Homo sapiens: one gene and its partners. The gene in region 2 interacts genetically with the main gene of each other region. Each region holds a gene or a part of one and is shown on either strand. Other genes may lie near its edges. The genes, in order: MTPAP, SKIC8 and MRPL46.

Region 1 (3,655 bases), on a different chromosome or scaffold from region 2:
TTGGTCAGGCTGGTTTTGAACTCCTGACCTCAGGTGATCCACACCCCTCGGCCTCCTAAAGTGCTGGGATTACAGGCATGGGCCACTTCCCAGCAGCTTTTCACTTTCTTTCTTCCTTTTATTGGATTACTCCTGCTTTATTCCTGCACTTTCCTCCTTACCCTTTTTTTCTCTTTCAAGTTTGGATATTATTTCTTCCATTTATGTTCTCTTTAACACGATGTCTAATGGTAAAATTAACCAGTGTCTCTTCCATCCTCCCAAACAATATAAATGATGTCTTAATTTAATTACAGTGTTGAAAAGGCTATTTATTTTTATTTTTATTTTTTTGTTGGAGATAGAGTCTCTTGCTCTGTTGCCTAGGCTGAAGTACGGTGACGTGATCTAGGCTCACAGCAACTTCCGCCTTCCAAGTTCAAACAATTCTCCTGTCTCAGCCTCCCAAGTAGCTGGGACTGCAGGCAGGGGCCACCATGCCCGGCTAATTTTTTTGTTTTAGTAGAGACAGGGTTTCACGTATTGGTCAGGCTGGTCTTGAACTCCTGACCTCAGGTGATCCATCCACCTCAGCCTCCCAAAAGTGCTGGGATTACAGGCGTGAGTCACCACACGCGGCCAAGGCTATGTGTTTTTATAAAATGTTTAGTTTCTATGGCTGTATCTTTCCTTACATCTTTCAAACTAGTAGTGAACATCAGACTTTATGTGGATGTCCAGTTGATATTTCAAACAATATTTTGAGACAACTTATATTCATCTTCCCACAAATGTTCTTTCTAAGTTCTTACAAAAGTTCTATATGTTTCACATGTTAATTAGTGGCATTTTAGCTTTGCTAACCATTCTTTTAATTCTGCTTCTAAGTTGTTATCTTTTGTATTCATAGTTTCACAGTCCCTTATAAACTCTCACTTAGATTATTGTAACTACATTCTGTTTCCACTTCTTATTCCTTGTGTCATGCCTTGATATTTTAACCTTCAGTCTTTGTTGGAGTTACCTTCACTCACAGTTTGAATTTTCCCACAAAGTTAGAATGCTTCTTTTCTTTAGCATAGTATTGAAATCCTCTGTGTCTTAATTAATTTTAGTCATCATTTCCCATTATATATTGTTACATACCCAATTTTCCAACTACATTGTTTTTATTTTTCTTTTTTTAAGACGGAGCTTCACTCGGTCACCCAGGCTGGAGTGCAGTGGCATGATCTTGGCCCGCTGCAGCCTCTGCCTCCTGGGTTCAAGTGATTCTCCTGCCTCAGCCTCCTGTGTAGCTGGGACTTCAGGCACGCCCCACCACGCCCGGCTAATTTTTGTGTTTTTAATAGAGATGGGATTTCGCCATTTTGGCCAGGCTGGTCTGGAACTCCTGACCTCAGGTGATCCACACACCTTGGCCTCCCGAAGTGCTGGGATTACAGGCTTGAGCCACCATGCCCGGCCCCAACCACATTGTTTAATTACCATTTCCAGTAATAGAAGGCACTTGTAAATATCATAATGATCAAACAGTTGTTCTGTGCCTTCACTCAGGAGTGCACTTTCCCTCCATTCCTCGACTCATTCCTAATGCAGCTTTCAAGGTCTAGTTCTAATTCTACCTTCTTGAAACCGCTCTTGATTTTTTTCTCCACTCCAGCCAAAATTAACCACTCCTTTTTTGTAGTATCTTGCAGGTATTTCTATCTGTCTCCAAATTTCTTCTGTCATGTTTAGTGAGTAGCTGATGTATGTATCTCCCACTATATAATAAACTTGGGCAGATAGGAATCATGTCTGTTCATATACTTATTCCACAGTACTGTGTACTTAATTTGCTCACCATATGCTTATTGAATTGAAGCTAGCCAGGCATAGGAAACAGATAAAAATTAAATGGGTCAGTTTTATTATAATAATAATTATTATTATTACTATTTTGAGATGAGGTCTCACTCTTTTGCCCAGGCTAGAGTGCAGTGGTATGATCTCAGCTCACTGTAACCTCTGCCTCCTGGGCTCAAGCAATTCTCCTGCCTCACCCGTGTGATTGAGACTTCAGGCTTACACTGCTGCTTCCGGCTAATTATTTTAGAGATAGTGTTTCATCATGTTGCCCAGGGTGGTCTCGAACTCCTGAGTTCAGGTGATCCACCCACCTCGGCCTCCCCAAGTGCTACGATTATAGGGATTACAAGCGTAAGCCACCGCATCCGGCCTGGATCAGTTTTATTAAGACTAACATGTACTTGAAAATATATTAAGTTCCTGGCAGTGGCACTTAAATTACATTAGGCTGTCTTAAATAAAGGATTGTAACTGAATAATCAAGGAGCATAACAGTGTGTTGTAATGGTTTAAAAAGCCTGGGCTCTGGCATCAAGCTGCAGAATTTTAATTCTACTTACTAGTAATGTGATCCTAGGTAAGTTATTTACCTTCTCTCTGCCTCAATTGTCCTAACTATAAAATTGGAATGGTGTTATAGCACATATCTCATACAATGTTTGAGAGGATTTATTGAGTTAATATGTGTGAAACATTTAGAACAGTGCTTATGGCACAGAGTAAGTGTTGAAATGTTGACCACCATCAACAGCAATATAATTTTACTCTTATGTAAGTGGGAGGCAAAATTTTTTCTTTGGTGGAAACAGGCAGGAGTTAGAAACTTTCTTCTTTTTTTTAAATTTATTTTTAATTAATTAATTTATTTTTTTTTGAGACAGAGTCTTGCTCTGTCTCCCAGGCTGGAGTGCAGCGGTGCCATCTCGGCTCACTGCAAGCTCCGCCTCCCGGGTTCACACTATTCTCCTGCCTCAGCCTCCCGAGTAGCTGGGACTACAGGCGCCCGCCACCACGCCCAGCTAATTTTTTGTATTTTTAGTAGAGATGGAGTTTCACCGTGTTAGCCAGGATGGTCTCGATCTCCTGACCTCGTGATCTGCCTGCCTCTGCCTCCCAAAGTGCTGGGATTACAGGCATGAGCCACTGCGCCCGGCCATTTTAATTTTTGTTTTCTTATTGACTCGTTGTTTCACCACGGTACCCAGGATAGTCTCGAACACCTGGGCTAACGATCCTCCTGCCTCAGCCTCCCAAAGTGCTGAGATTATAGGTGTGAGCCACTGCACCTGGCCTAGAAACTTTTAGTTGAGTCTTACTCTTAGATTTCTGAGGTATAGAGGTATTTAGAAAAAGATGTTTTAAAGACAGTGCTCCAGTCTTACTAAACAATTAGGCATTTTGGGCCGGGCACAGTGGCTCAAGCCTGTAATCCTACCACTTTGGGAGGCCAAGTCGGGTGGATCACTTGAGGTCAGGAGTTCGAGACCAGCCTGGCCAATGTAGTGAAACCCCGTCTCTACTAAAAATACAAAAATTAGCTGGGCGTGGTGGTGGGAGCCTATAATCCCAGCTACTCAGAAGGCTGAGGCAGGAGAATTGCTTGAACCCGGTGAGGCAGAGGTTGCAGTGAGCCGAGATCACGCCACCTCACTCCAGCCTGGGCGAAATAGCAAGACTCTGTCATACATACACAGAAATAACCAGAACTTGGCATTTCCTGTGTCAGTTTAAATTAGGAAAGTGTTGTTATAAACATACATGTGCTTATTTAAGGATTTTTTGGAAATATGTTTTTGTTCAAGATTATAATAGCTTTGCTAGTAAA
Region 2 (3,655 bases):
TATTGCTATTGCTTTCTTGCCTAGAAAAAAGTATTTCCCGGACTGCAACTGGAGAGTTCAGAAGCAAAACCTCAGCCCCCAATTTTCCAAGGCTGTATGTTAGGGGAGAGGCACTCACCATTTCCAGACCTTCACCAGGTCATCTAGGGAGCCTGTGACCACTGTCTCAGAGTTTTCCTTCTTGTTTGTCCCCCAAGCAACTGACCAAATGGCATCATCATGGGCTAGAATGGAAAGTGCTTCATTTATAAAGTCTTCTTGCATACGACTTAATGAAGCCGAGATACTGTTCAACAATTGTGAGGTAACATTTATTTGTATTTGCTTTACTATTTTACAAAGTGCTTTCCTATACAGCTTTTATTGAAATTTTGGGGCCACATATGAAAATTGGAGGTTCTGAAGAAGCTACTTGCCCTAAATCTCATGTTTACCAGGCGACAAGGTAGTACTTCGGACTCTAAATCCAGTGTCCTTTCTTTTAGCATGCTATCTGGTATATAGGAGTCTACAATGGCTATCACTTGGCTAAAAACAAGTAAAACCAGTGGGGAAGACCCCCTCCTACCAAGAAAAGGCCTAAACCCGGTAACAGATACTCCGAAAAGATCTTTCGAAACAAGCAGGCAGTTCAATTCTAAACAGTATAGATCTAAAAGAAAATACCTACTATAGCCTCCATATATTAAGTTGCCTTTCCCCACAAGTATCTTTATTATGGTTAATGGGCCAATTATTACATTACAACAATCCTATGAAGTGGGTACTATTAATATCCTCATTTTATAGACAAGGAATGAGAGGTGCTAGGATTCAAATCCAATCTCTATTAATTAAAGTCTACCTTAAGTCTAAGTCTGTAAGCTGCATATTTGGTAGGCCATGCTGTTGTATGTGCAGACCCAGTGTGGATGTAAAAACGTGACAAGTGCACATGGAGGCTTTACCCCTGCCTGGCAACAATTCTCCAGCGATACCTTCCCAAAATATGAATATAAAGGCATTAAACTTAAAACAGCTGTGCACCACAGACAGCGTTGTGGCTTCCATTTCAAACCTCACCTAACTCAAGCCTGCTAACTTGCCACCTGGATGACAATAGCTACATATAAGGTAGTTGACTGGCATGCCCAATTAGCCTACTAGTTACTTACACTAGCTAACCTGAATGATGCTTTTGGCTTAAACGTCAAACTACCTCCATGTCACCTACTTAGAGAGCAAGAGCTTTTATTAGGCATTCCACAAATTCCTTAGGCCTTCTCAAACTCATCGAGGCTATAGTGAAGAAATGAGATGGGTGAGTAGCCCATGCACAAACATGGCTCCTTTTTGGGTACAAAGCTCTGTACCACTGGTCAGTTACAATCCCAGCCCACTCTGACCTGCCACCTGCTCTCCCATCCCTGCCACTGCCACTGCTGCACAGCTCCCAGCCCTCCCCATGCACTCGGTGGCCTCAAGAGAAACTCATTTCACTATTATAGGCTTCACTTTCATTAAGGGCCAAAGCAAGTTCTGAGTTCAGAAAAAGGCTCACGTTCACCTCCCCAGATGAGCCGGCATTAACAGAGTTTTGAGCCTCAAAGCATTTCCTTCTTCCACCTCAGCAGCTGGGAAGCTCCATCATGTCTTCCTCAGGTGGAAAAATTTTCCTCAGCCTAGAATTCCCCAACCTATCATGATGACTGCTTTTTTTTTTTAGCTGGTTGTTCAGGTTTTTGTTGTTGTTGTTGTTGTTGTCTGTTTTTTAAGAGTATTTGTTTTCAGCTGCCAATTCTTCTGCAAAGTGAGTATACTTGAAAACTGCATGTCTGGTCAGCATGACAAAAGTCTTAAACCAGGGACAACACAGTTTTTTTCACAGATGAATTGCTTAAACAGGCAGGCTACTTACCTTGCTCTTGTTTGAAGAGAATACCGTACTAAAAAAGAACAGAAGCCACATTAAACCCATGGTCAGATTTCAGATGTCTCACATTGCCTCCAGAAAGCACTCCTCCCCGAGTAGACAGAGTCACCACAGTGTTAGTTACTTCCTCTGCTGTCAACCTGGCCATCCCGCAAGCTCCTTGATTCCCATTCATGCAAGATTTGTACAGTCATATCAGAAAAAAATTCTTAAAGAAACTGACATTCTCCCCTCCTTCCTACTACCCAAACTCACTCAACAAGAGACCAATAAATTATGTTTTCTTTTTCTGTTCTGATCACCAAGGAAGCTCAAAGTCCAGTTTGTAGCTTAAATTTTGCAGCTGCAATAAGAACACACAGCCTGCCTAACCGTCTATTAACTTTGTCCCTAATCTTATTACAAAGATATGTTTCTCCTGTTCTATCTCCTATTCTGATCTTTTTTTTTTTTTTTTTGTACAACATCTTTTAAGCTTCTTCTATTACTCACTAAATTGTGGTAAAGACTTGGATGAACCAATCCTCCTCTCAGTATTTGCATTTCACTAGTCCCACCTAACACTGTGGTGACTAGGTACCCAGGGTCACCCAGCTCTTTAGGAGCCAGGCAAGAATGAGATGCTAGTTTCTTGACTACACATCCAGAAAACCTACTGGACTTGAACTTGGCAAAGAGACCAATTGATGTTTTTCCCTTCAACACAGGTCTTACCTGGTTGGTCATTTCCTTAACCAAGGATCAAGGACAAAAGGCCAGACAGCTCTGTGGAAACAACACCAGGATTTCAGTGAGGGGGTGTCATCAGGATAGAAGGCACACAGGAAGTTCCCCTTGACCAAGAAAATAAGGCAACTCTTTATTATGAAGTTGTTCTGACACCCTTCTATGGATCAGTCCCTGGAACCTCCTTCGCACTCCCTACCAGGTGGTATGGTCTTCTTTCTTCCTCTGAACCTAGGGACTCAACTAACAGCTAATTCTATCCCATGGTTTCTTCACCTCAAGTGTGACTGCAGAGAGCGACCAGTCTCTGTCCTTTCCTGCTCTTTAGAGAGAAAAAAACCACAGCTCCTTTTAATATTAAATATTATTTATTAAAAACAAACAAACAAACATGGGGGAATCCAAAGATGGCAAAGTTCTTATTTTACATGCAAAAGTCTCAACCAAAAATGCCTTTAAGAGCCAACAGGCAGGTAAATAAGGGCAGAAGCTGGAGGGAGACACGTGTCAAGAGATTGAGAACATCCTGGCTGACATGGTGAAACCACGTCTCTAATAAAAATACAAAAATTAGCTGGGTGTAGTGGCGCACACCTGTAATCCCAGCTACTCAGGAGGCTGAGGCAGGAGAATCACTTGAACCTAGGCAGCGGAGGTTGCAGTGAGCTGAAATTGTGCCACTGAACTCCAGCCTGGGTGACAGAGCGAGACTCCATCTTAAAAAATAAAAATAAAAAATAAAAAAAAAAGGATAGATCTAATTTCTCAGGCTACATTAAGGGCTAATGGTTCTTATTTCTTTGTGTGTGCCAAAGACCCCCTTTGGCGGACTTTTTTTTTTCGAGATAGGGTCTTGCTCCATCACCCAGACTGGAGTGCAGTGGCACAATCATGGTCAATGCAGCTTCAACCTCCCAGGCCAAGTCTTGCTCCCACCTCAGCCCGAGTGGCTGGGACTACAGGTGCGTGCCAACATGTCTGGATATTTTAATTTTTTGTAGAGATGGGGTCTCCCTA
Region 3 (2,861 bases), about 10 Mb from region 2:
GTGAGGGGCATTGGGGTCAGCATTCTCCTCTAGCACCAACAGGCACATGCAGTATGACTCTGGGCTAAGTCACAACCTGGCCGTGATTCCTCCATCTGTAGAATGGAGATAAACTAACTGCACATTTCACATGACTGTTTCAAAAAAGGTTAAGACATAACTCAATTCTTTTTAAAATAAAATGCTTTTAGGAAGGGGGGGAAAGAAGGAAGGATTATTTCCCAGGCTAGATTAAAACACCTTCATATCAAGTGCAGAGGGAAGGAAAAACAAACTGGAAATGGCTAAGAAACTATATAGAACTAGTTTTTTCCCAAGGGCCTAGAGAAGCTTTCACAGAATTCAAGGCTTTCGGGAAGTCAATTCATTTCCTTCTGTCCTTTCTTCCTGGGCCCAGTAACTCAGTGACGCACTGTAATATAATCCAGTACTCAGTGATCACCTTGGGAAAAAAATGGAAAGACACCCTAAGAGATGGCTCTCTTCACTGGGCCATCAAAGGGCAAATCAGCTGAGACCAACACAGTAATAGACTCGTTTATTTCTCAGAATTTAGTTTGCTGCTTGATATTACCTGCAAATGTGAGGCAATCACACAATGTCCTTGAGGCTCTAATCCCAGACTTGTCTGAGCACCGTCCACAGGCAGCTCGGCCCATCAGAGGTCTGAAACAAACCTCCTAACTTGGGCCAGGTATTTTGGTTTCAAATAGTCACCCAGCTCATCCTTAGTGACCCACACATGATGGCCCTTATTCCCAGCCTGGGAAAAGTCTCCAGTTAATAGCAGTGCTTTGAAGAAGAACACCTTGGCTCCGAGGTTACTCTCTGTCCGCATTGCCTGGGGGAACTTGAATGTGTAGTGCCCACAGGGTGCATTTCCTAGGAACTTGGCTTCCATGTTGTTTTCTGAAGAGGGAGGAAAGAAAAATCACAATTGGAAGGTAAGGATACAGCCATCTGTTTACTCTGGCTCCCAAAATTATAGGGGGTCCCTGCAAGATCTGGCCCTGAGGTAAAATCAATCCCTAGGAATAGGACTAGAGCCATTCCTGAAAAGAGGCTCCTCCCCTCTCAATCCAAATGCCTCCTGGCCCATGGAGTCCAGATTCACCAGGCTCACTCCCATGTGCCAAGCTACTGTTTTTAGACTGAAAGTCAGCAACACAGTTACAATCACACCTGGGAGTCAGAGCACCTAGTTCCTACATTCAGCCCAGTCGCTATCTGCTGGCGAATCAGCCCAGTCGCTATGCTGGCGAATCAGCCCAGTCGCTATCTGCTGGCGAATCAGCCCAGTCGCTATCTGTTGGCGAATCAGCCCAGTCGCTAACTGTTGGTGAATCAGCCCAGTCGCTATCTGCTGGTGAAGGACGAGGACATTTGGTCTGTAAAACAAAGTTCATCCACCTTTAAAATGGGTGTCACCTGGAAAGCATTAAAAAGGACCCCAGTTTTAACTCCTACCTAGTGAAAAAAGGCATAAACCAAGTTAAAGACAAAAACAGATGAGTAGACAGTATCTGTAATCTATAACTAAGGGTTAACAACCCCAATTCAGCATTTCAAATGATGGGGAAATGATGGACTAATTACTAAACGGCATCTGAAGAACTGATTAGCCAGATGGGAAAAACCAAGCTGGATTCCATACTCAGTCCTCACAATAAAATTGATACCATATAGATCAAAGATTTAACAATAGACATTTTAACTTTTCATAAAAAATTTATTCATTCTGGATGGTTGTTTCATGGACATTTAATATTTTCCAATCTTCTCTGTATTTTTTTTTTCCCAAGACAGAGTCTCGCTTTGTCACCCAGGCTGGAGTGCAGTCGTGCAATCTTGGTTCACTACCACCTCAGGCTCCTGGGTTCAAAGGATTCTCATGCCTCAGCCTCCTGAGTAGCTGGGATTACAGGCATGTGCCACCACACTCAGCTAATTTTTTTTCTGTATTTTTAGTACAGACGGGGTTTTGCCATGTTGGTCAGGCTGGTCTTGAACTTGTGGCCTCAAGTGATCCGCCTACCTCGGCCTCCCAAAGTGCAGGGCATATTTTCTAATTACAATAAAAACACATGAGCATTAGAAGAAAATGCAGGATGCTTTCTTAAACCTTAAGATATTATTTGAGAGGGCAAGGCCTTTCTAAGCAAGAAACAAAATTTTTAAGCCCAAAAAACAAAAGATTTATATTTGTCTACATAAAAATTAAATCTTTCTGCAAGGAAAAATGAAGCACAAAAAAAGTCAAAGACAAAATGACAAACTAGGAAAAATATTTTCAACACGTTCAACAAAGGAATATCTTAAGGTATAAGAAGCACTTAAAAATCAATGCAGATACTCAGGAAGCTGAGGCAGGAGTACTGCTTGAGAATAGGAGTTTAAGGCCAGCCTGGGCAACATAGCAAGATTCCATCTCTAAAGGAAAAAAAATCAATGAGGAAAAAAAACAACAAATTAAAAAGAAAAATGAACCAAGCACATGAACAGTTAAGCTCACATGAAAATAAATATCACTGGCCCATAAATACATTAAAAGGTGTTCAAACTTATTAATAATTTAAAGAAATAAAGTTAAACAACAACATATATCATTATTGAAGTTCAAAAACTTAACTGTACTCTGCTTATGAAGGATAAGGAAAAAACCTGTACTTTCACACATATTTTGGAGGGGTTATAAATTAGTATAAGTGCTATTAATTGGCAAGAGGTGTCAACTTAATTGCACATGCCCTTTGACCTAGCAACTCCAGTTCTAGACTTTTATCCTACCAGATATACTAATTTGCCCATGTGAGCAAAGATGAGCATACAAGGATATTCACTGCAGCTTTGTTTGTAAAAAC

What was found.
Region 1: changes in SKIC8 (region 2) and MTPAP together harm fitness less than expected from each alone (positive genetic interaction), as found in Homo sapiens cells (one large-scale study listed by BioGRID).
Region 3: changes in SKIC8 (region 2) and MRPL46 together harm fitness less than expected from each alone (positive genetic interaction), as found in Homo sapiens cells (one large-scale study listed by BioGRID).

What each region holds. Positions count from the first base shown.
Region 1 is NC_000010.11:30,332,170-30,335,824, reverse strand, and holds part of MTPAP (poly(A) RNA polymerase, mitochondrial precursor), read left to right. Parts: intron 1-3,655. UniProt on the Homo sapiens protein: Polymerase that creates the 3' poly(A) tail of mitochondrial transcripts. Can use all four nucleotides, but has higher activity with ATP and UTP (in vitro). Plays a role in replication-dependent histone mRNA degradation.
Region 2 is NC_000015.10:78,293,049-78,296,703, forward strand, and holds part of SKIC8 (superkiller complex protein 8), read right to left. Parts: intron 2,746-3,655; exon of another isoform or gene 2,678-2,745; 5' UTR 2,639-2,677; coding exon 2,627-2,638; intron 1,926-2,626; coding exon 1,898-1,925; intron 225-1,897; coding exon 119-224; intron 1-118. UniProt on the Homo sapiens protein: Component of the PAF1 complex (PAF1C) which has multiple functions during transcription by RNA polymerase II and is implicated in regulation of development and maintenance of embryonic stem cell pluripotency.
Region 3 is NC_000015.10:88,458,955-88,461,815, forward strand, and holds the end of MRPL46 (large ribosomal subunit protein mL46), read right to left. Parts: intron 910-2,861; coding exon 659-909; 3' UTR 524-658; downstream 1-523.